Linked DNA regions of Homo sapiens. The protein of the gene in region 1 purifies or fractionates together with the protein of each later gene. This does not show direct contact. Each region holds a gene or a part of one and is shown on either strand. Other genes may lie near its edges.

What was found. Proteins that work in one complex are often made in the same cells at the same time.
Region 2: the proteins of ANXA3 (region 1) and SNAP23 fractionate together in Homo sapiens (co-fractionation; one large-scale study listed by BioGRID). This does not show direct contact.

Annotation. Positions count from the first base shown.
Region 1 is NC_000004.12:78,575,770-78,579,269, forward strand, and holds part of ANXA3 (annexin A3), read left to right. Parts: intron 1-3,257; coding exon 3,258-3,352; intron 3,353-3,500. UniProt on the Homo sapiens protein: Inhibitor of phospholipase A2, also possesses anti-coagulant properties. Also cleaves the cyclic bond of inositol 1,2-cyclic phosphate to form inositol 1-phosphate.
Region 2 is NC_000015.10:42,505,634-42,509,133, forward strand, and holds part of SNAP23 (synaptosomal-associated protein 23), read left to right. Parts: intron 1-3,500. UniProt on the Homo sapiens protein: Essential component of the high affinity receptor for the general membrane fusion machinery and an important regulator of transport vesicle docking and fusion.

The sequences.
Region 1 (3,500 bases):
TTATGCTTATTGAATCTTTTCTATAACGAAGTCATAAAGTTAGATATTCTCCTACTTTTTTTTTCAAAGTTTTGAAATTTTATTTTTCGTATTATGATCTTAAATCTACATGGAATTAGTGTTCATGGATGGTATTTAAAGGTGTCTCATTTTATTCTATTTCATGTGGACATTTAATTGTCCCAGAACAATGTATTGAAGAGCTCTTCCTTTTCACACTGATTTGTACGTAATATCACCTATGTTTTATGCTTCCCTATTTTTCTCTTCTCTGTTATGCTTCATTTATCTATTTGGCCCTCCCAACACCACATTGTCACAATTATTAGGATTTTATAATGACACTAAATATCTACCAGGCAAGGTCTTTCTTGGCTCTTTGCCCTCCTCTATGAATTTTAAAATCAGCTTGTCAAATTCAATAAATATACTATATTAGAACTTTATATCAATATAATATTATGTTTTTTCTGCCTGTTTGAGGTTTATTTTTTCCATTTTTCAATGTAAGTTATTTCTTCATTTATCTCTTGATTTCCTTATTTTTTTTTTAAGAGAGAAGGGCTTGCTCTGTCACCTAGGCTCGAATGCAGTGATATGATCACAGCCCACTGCAGCCTCAAACTCCTGGATCCTATGGCCTCAGCCTCTGGTGTTGCTAGGACTACAGATGCTCATCACAATGTGTACCTAATTTTTAAATTTTCTGTAGTGACAGGGTCTTGCTATGTTGCCCACGCTAGTCTTGGACTCCTGGGCTCAAGTAATCCTTCTGCCTTGTCCTCCCAAAGTCCTGGGATTATAGATGTGAGTCACTGCACCCAGCCTGATTGCCCTATTTATATCTAGTGTTGAATAGACTGTTTCATGAGGTTAATAGTCTTTAAATTCTGTCACCTCTTTTTAAACATTATGTTTCTTCATGAATTTGCACTTTGGCTTACAGGCCTTCTTTAAGAAGGAGGTTATTGTTTATGAGCACCACTTCTGATAGGTTCTGAGTTCAGAATGAGGTATCATAACGGTGTTTGCATTAGGGATGGGTCAGACACAGTCTCTGAACCTGAGGCATCTTGGCTTAGTTTTTGATCTTGGGCATGTTTAAAAATAAGAGATGAGAAACTGCCAGGCATACAAACTACACATAACTGCAGGTAGTTTGGTATAGTTGTAGTCTAGGTGCATAGGTTATAGAGATGCAGAGAGGGGGTAGAAAATGAGAACAAAGACATAAGGCAGGAGAGATCATAATGAGCTGATACATGAGCTAAGGGGCTTAAACTTCATCCTGAAGATTACAAAGAGCCATTAGAATTTTAGCCAAGGGGGTGACATGATCAGATTGTATTTTTAAACATTTACTTAGGCAGTAGTTTACAGGAATAATTATATGGGAGTCACATTAGGAGGTGATTTAGGTTATCCAGGTAAAATATGATAAGGACACAGGAGCAGAGGGCATGCAGAGGAGACGACAAATTTAAGAGATGCAGATAATTGCTATAATATAGAGAATAAGATAAAGAAAGGAATCTGAGATGATTCCCAGGGTTTTTGCCTGGATGACTATATCCATAGTTGTGGATGAGGGAACATAAAAAGAAAGACAAGTCAGAGAGGAAATACAATAAATTCCACCCAGAATGTGCTGAGTTTCAGATACTTGTGCAGTTGTGGTGGCCGGTAGTGTACTGACACAGATGCTGGGTACAATACACAGCACCAAATTGGTGCTCAGACCCACAGAGCACAAATACACTTTAATCTGATTCGGTATTTATTTAACTATGTGTAAGAATACAAAACCAAAGACACAGAAAGGCAGCATCTTTCATTGGGAGGCCCAGCAGCTAACCAAGTACACAGAAGCTTTTGCTTCATCATTGATGTAAGCTGTGTACCACTGCCACGGAAGTGTGTAGATGAGGTCTGTGAGGGTCACCTTGACACAAAGAAGTTGAGCATTGAGTTCCAGGTGCTCTTTTATACCTCTCTAGTCATGCATGCTCTAGGCCTGCAAGCCAATTCACAGCTTCCCAAACCAGGTATCATCGTGGGTTGGGAAATTAATTAGACACAACTTTCCACGTTTTTCTTACTACTGTAGTCACCAAGATAAGAATGACCTTGAGGTCATTCTTAGGCAGGCCAGCATCAGCTCTGGCCTGATGTTACCTTTTGCTTACAAACAATTCATTTTGTATATGGGTTTGAAATTTATGAGAGAGGCCGGGTACGGTGGCTTACCCCTGAAATCCCGGCACTTTGGAAGGCTGAGGCGGGTGGATCACCTGAGGTCAGGAGTTCGAGACCAGCCTGATCAACATGGTGAAACCCCATCTCTACTAAATTAAAAAAAAAATTAGCTGGGCATGATTGCACATGCCTGTAATCCCAGCTACTTGGGAGACTGAGGCAGGAGAATCGCTTGAACCCGGGAGGTGGTGGTTGCAGTGAGCCGAGATCGTGCCATTGCACTGCAGCCTGGGCAACGAGAGAGAGAGAAAGGGCGAAGGGGAGAGAGAGAGCGAGAGAGAGAGAGAGAGAGAGAGAGAGAGAGAAAGGGAGGGAGGGAGGGAGGGAAGGAGGGAGAGAGGGAGGAAAGAAGGAAGGGAGGGAGGGAGGGAGAGAGAGATGTGGAAGAAATGCATGAGAGAGATGTGGACCAAAGATAGAAATATATGTTTTGGGGTCAGAGATTTGGGTTCAACTTCTTGCTGGACCACTCAGCAGTTGTGTGACTTTGGCAAGGAAGATAAGTTCGTGTCTTCATCTTTAGTACAGCGGGCCCCTGTGAATATTAACTATGGCAATGAATAAAAGGGTGTTTCATGCAGGGCAGATTTTCAATAAGTGTTGGTTCCTGTTTTCCAGAGGAAGAAATATTTTGATATCAAGTATGGGAGAGAGATAAAAGGCAATAAGACAGTAACCAAACCTCATAAAGGTAAAAAAGTCAAGTTCAAAAGTAGTAGGTTGTTTTGTCTGATGTACAGAAAGGAGTATTTAGACAATGATTGTTTCCTTCCCCCCAAAACTATCCAAATAAAGTTAACTTTTTTTTTCCAAAACTCAGGCAAACAAAATAAATAAATAAATAAATAAATAAATAAATAAATAAAATTCCAACCAGATAAGATGCTAGAAATTAAAATGCCTTACTCTCTGCATTTGTCTCAGGCCATTGATCATTTTGCTTTTGTTCAAGACAAATGTTGAGCATAAATATTGAGTAAAATAACTTTTGTTTCATTTAGGAACTGATGAGAAAATGCTCATCAGCATTCTGACTGAGAGGTCAAATGCACAGCGGCAGCTGATTGTTAAGGAATATCAAGCAGCATATGGAAAGGTAAGGTCACATTAACATGACAGGCAGTAAAGAGATCATTAATGTACCATGGTCGCTCCCACATGGTTATGCCCACAGTCTTCTGTTTCAGGCTGAGTGTAACAGAAGATGCCCTGTGCATCCAGTCAGGAGCCTGGAATCTGAGTCG
Region 2 (3,500 bases), on another chromosome or scaffold:
CGACCTTTGCCTCTCGGGTTCAATCAACTCTCCTGTCTCAGCCTCCTGAGTAGCTGGGATTATAGGTGTGCATCACCACGCCTGGCTAATTTTTGTATTTTTAGTAGAGACGGGGTTTCACCATGTTGGCCAGGCTGGTCTTGAACTCCTGACCTTAGGTGATCTGCCCACCTTGGCCTTCCAGAGTGCTGGGATTACAGGCGTGAGCCACCGCACCTGGCCTCTTGCTTGCTTGTTTTCTTATCTCCTCCCTTCCTCCCTCCCTCCCTTCCATTTCTTTTCCTTCTTTCTTTTCTTTTCTTTTTTTTTCTTTCTTTTTTATTTTTTTTGAGACAGAGTCTTGCTCTTGTCACTCAGGCTGGAGTGTAGTGGCATGATCTCGACTAACTGCAACCACTCCCTCCCGGGTTCAAACGATTCTCCTGCCTCAGCCTCCCGAGTAGCTGGGACTACAGGCGCCCACCACCACACCTGGCTAATTTTTGTATTTTTAGTAGAGATGGGGTTTCACCATTTTGGCAATGGCTGGTCTTGAACTCCTGAGCTTGTGATCCGCCAACCTCGGCCTCCCAAAGTGCTGGGATTATAGGCGTGAGCCACTGTGACCGGCCCATTTCTTTTCTTTCTTTGGGGTCTTGCTCTGTCAGGCAGGCTGGAGTGTAGTGGGGATCATGGCTCACTGCAGCCCTGAACTCCCAGGCTCAAGTGAACCTCCTAACTCAGTCTCCCAAGTAGCTGGGACTACAGGCACTGGTCACCACACCTGGCTATTTTTGTTGTTACTTTTTGTGGAGACAGAGTCTTGTTGTGTTGCCTAGGCTGGTCTCAAACTAGCCTCAAGCCGTTTTCCTACCTCAGCCCTCAAAAGTGCCAGAGTTACAGGCATGAGCCGCTGTGCCTAGCCAATAGACTTCTTTTCATTTTCTAAATTAATGTAGATTATTTTCAGCTTCTGAAATAATAGAAGACAGTTGAAAACCATGATTACTGTGGTCTATTTCTCCTTCAATTTAACTGTCTTCTTTGAGTCTGTAGAAGAGATAAAATTTCATGGTCTTATAGAAAGCATCTGAAATTTTGAAATGAGCCATCATATAGGATTGCTTGACCTATTTTCCAATATTCAGCAGCTCTCATATGATCTATTGTTTGTTAAGGGGGCGGTGGATACAGTCAACAGAAAAAACTTTTTTTTTTTTTTTGGAAACAGGGTCTTGGTCTGTTGCCCAGGCTAGAGCACAGTGATGCCATCTCGGCTCACTGTACCCTCTGCCTCCCAGGTTCAAGTGATTCTTGTGCCTCAGCCTCCTGAGTAGCTGGGACTACAGGCATGCGCCCCATGCCCAGCTAATTTTTTGATTATTTGTAGAGAACGGGTCTCACTATGTTGCCCAGGCTGGTCTTGAATTCCTGGCCTCAAGCAGTCCTCCTGCCTTGGCCTCCTAAAGTACTGGGATTACAGACGTGTGCCACCACTCCCAGCTCCAGAAAGACTCTTTATCAGACCATGAATTATACTTAATTTGCGAGTAGATCCCGACTTGAATAATCAATCTGCTCTTTACTGACACAGCCGCCTTGGGTAAGTTACCTAAACTGAGCCTTAGTTTCTCCATCTGTAAAATAGTATAATGAAGATAATGATGTAGATAAATACTTAGTAGGGTATCTGGTGCCTAAGAGGTACTCAGTGAACTTTTCTTTCCCTGCCTAGGTTTAAATTAGAAAAGAAAAAGGTCAAATTAGGAGTCTTTTAGTAAGCCCAAGTGAACCATAGCATGAGAAATAGGGTGTAAAAGCACTGAGAAAAATCTTGCATTTTCCTCTGAAAGGCACACTATTAGCATAGTATAAGTTCCCAGCAGCACTGGAAAAATGACACAAGTATTTAATAGATTAGATTAAATCTGAGAAAAGTACGTTTAATGGCATCTTTGTATCAACTGATGTTTTATTTTTCATCCCACCCCACCAGTTCTCTTTTCTGTAATATTCTGGGTAACCTTTTCCTGATTCCGTAAGGAAAATGTCTGCAGAGAATAATAAATATGAGTAAGGCTATGTAGCTAATTATAGGTTACATTCTCTCTGACTCGTCTCAGCAAACTTACAAAGACCAATAAGAACTTGAGGAGTATTATTCCTTGTCTGTCTTTGTCCTTCCCCTTACAATTCTACTTTGACTCTGTTACTTTCATATACAGTTGACCCTTGAACAACATGGGCTTGAACTGCGTGGGTCCACTTATAGGTAAATTTTTTTTTCAGTAAATACAATCAGCCCTCCGTATCAGCAGGTTCCACATCTATAACCAAATGCAGATAGAAAATATGGTATTCAGCCAGGTACGGTAGCTCATCCCTGTAATTCCAGAACTTTGGGAGGCTGAGGTGGGAGGATTGCTTGACCCCAAAAGTTTCAGAAGTTTGAGACCAGCCTGGATAACATAGTGAGACCCTGTCTCTATAAAACAGCTTAAAAATTAGCCGGGCATGATGCATGCACCTGTAGTCCCAGCTATTCAGGGGGCTAAATGGGAGGATTGCTTGAGCCTGGGAGGGCAAGGCTGTAGTGAACCTGATTGCACCACCGCTCTCCAACCTGGATGACAGAGTGAAGCCTTGCCTCAAAAAAAAAAAAAAAGAAAGAAAGAAAGAAAAGAAAATACGGTATTCATACATGCAAAACTCCCGTCTACAGAGGGCGGACTTTTATATCTGCAGGTTCCTCAGGGCCAATTGGTATCCACAGGCAGTACTGAATCCAACCCTCTGAGCGACAGCCACACTAAACTTGTGCTCAAAACCCTCAAGAACACAGAGTAATCTTAGGCAGCTGCATCCTGGCGTTAGCATGCCAAACTTGGGAGTAGATATCTGTTACTTGTCTTGCGTGTTGTCTGGTCAGGGAAGAAAAAAATATTAAGCAGAACTTCGAGTTCACATGGAAAGGATGTGTCCTTCAGAATGACCTCATTGCGATGTCAGGGGTGATTCCTCACGTTATCCATCTCCCAGTTATATCTGCTTTCTTTTTTCTTTTAAAGAAGGCAGCACAGAGGTCAGGAGTGCATTCACTCCTAACTCTGGAGTTTTGCTTTTTTTTTCCTAGGAAGCTAGCAAAGACTGACTTGTAATTGGCAATAATCACCTCTAGGAATAGAATTACAAAATTACATAATTTGTGATATTTGGGCTTCCTTACCCCAGAATGTCTCCCGACCCACAGGATACTATATCTGAAAACCTCACTAAGGGTGCCTTTTCCAGGCACTAATGGATTAGTGTATATTATTTTTCATATTTTCTTCTCTGTCGGGCATTGAGGAGTTACACATGACAGGAATAGATAACTTCAGAGCATTACTGCCTGGGGAGGGCAGGCTTTGGAGAGGTATCTCGGTTGGGGCTTTAGGAAGTGATGGAAAAGCATGAGGCTACCTGGGCAGATGTGGGGTATTATAGAAAGGAAAGGTGTGCAAAAGTGTGGAGGTGAGAGG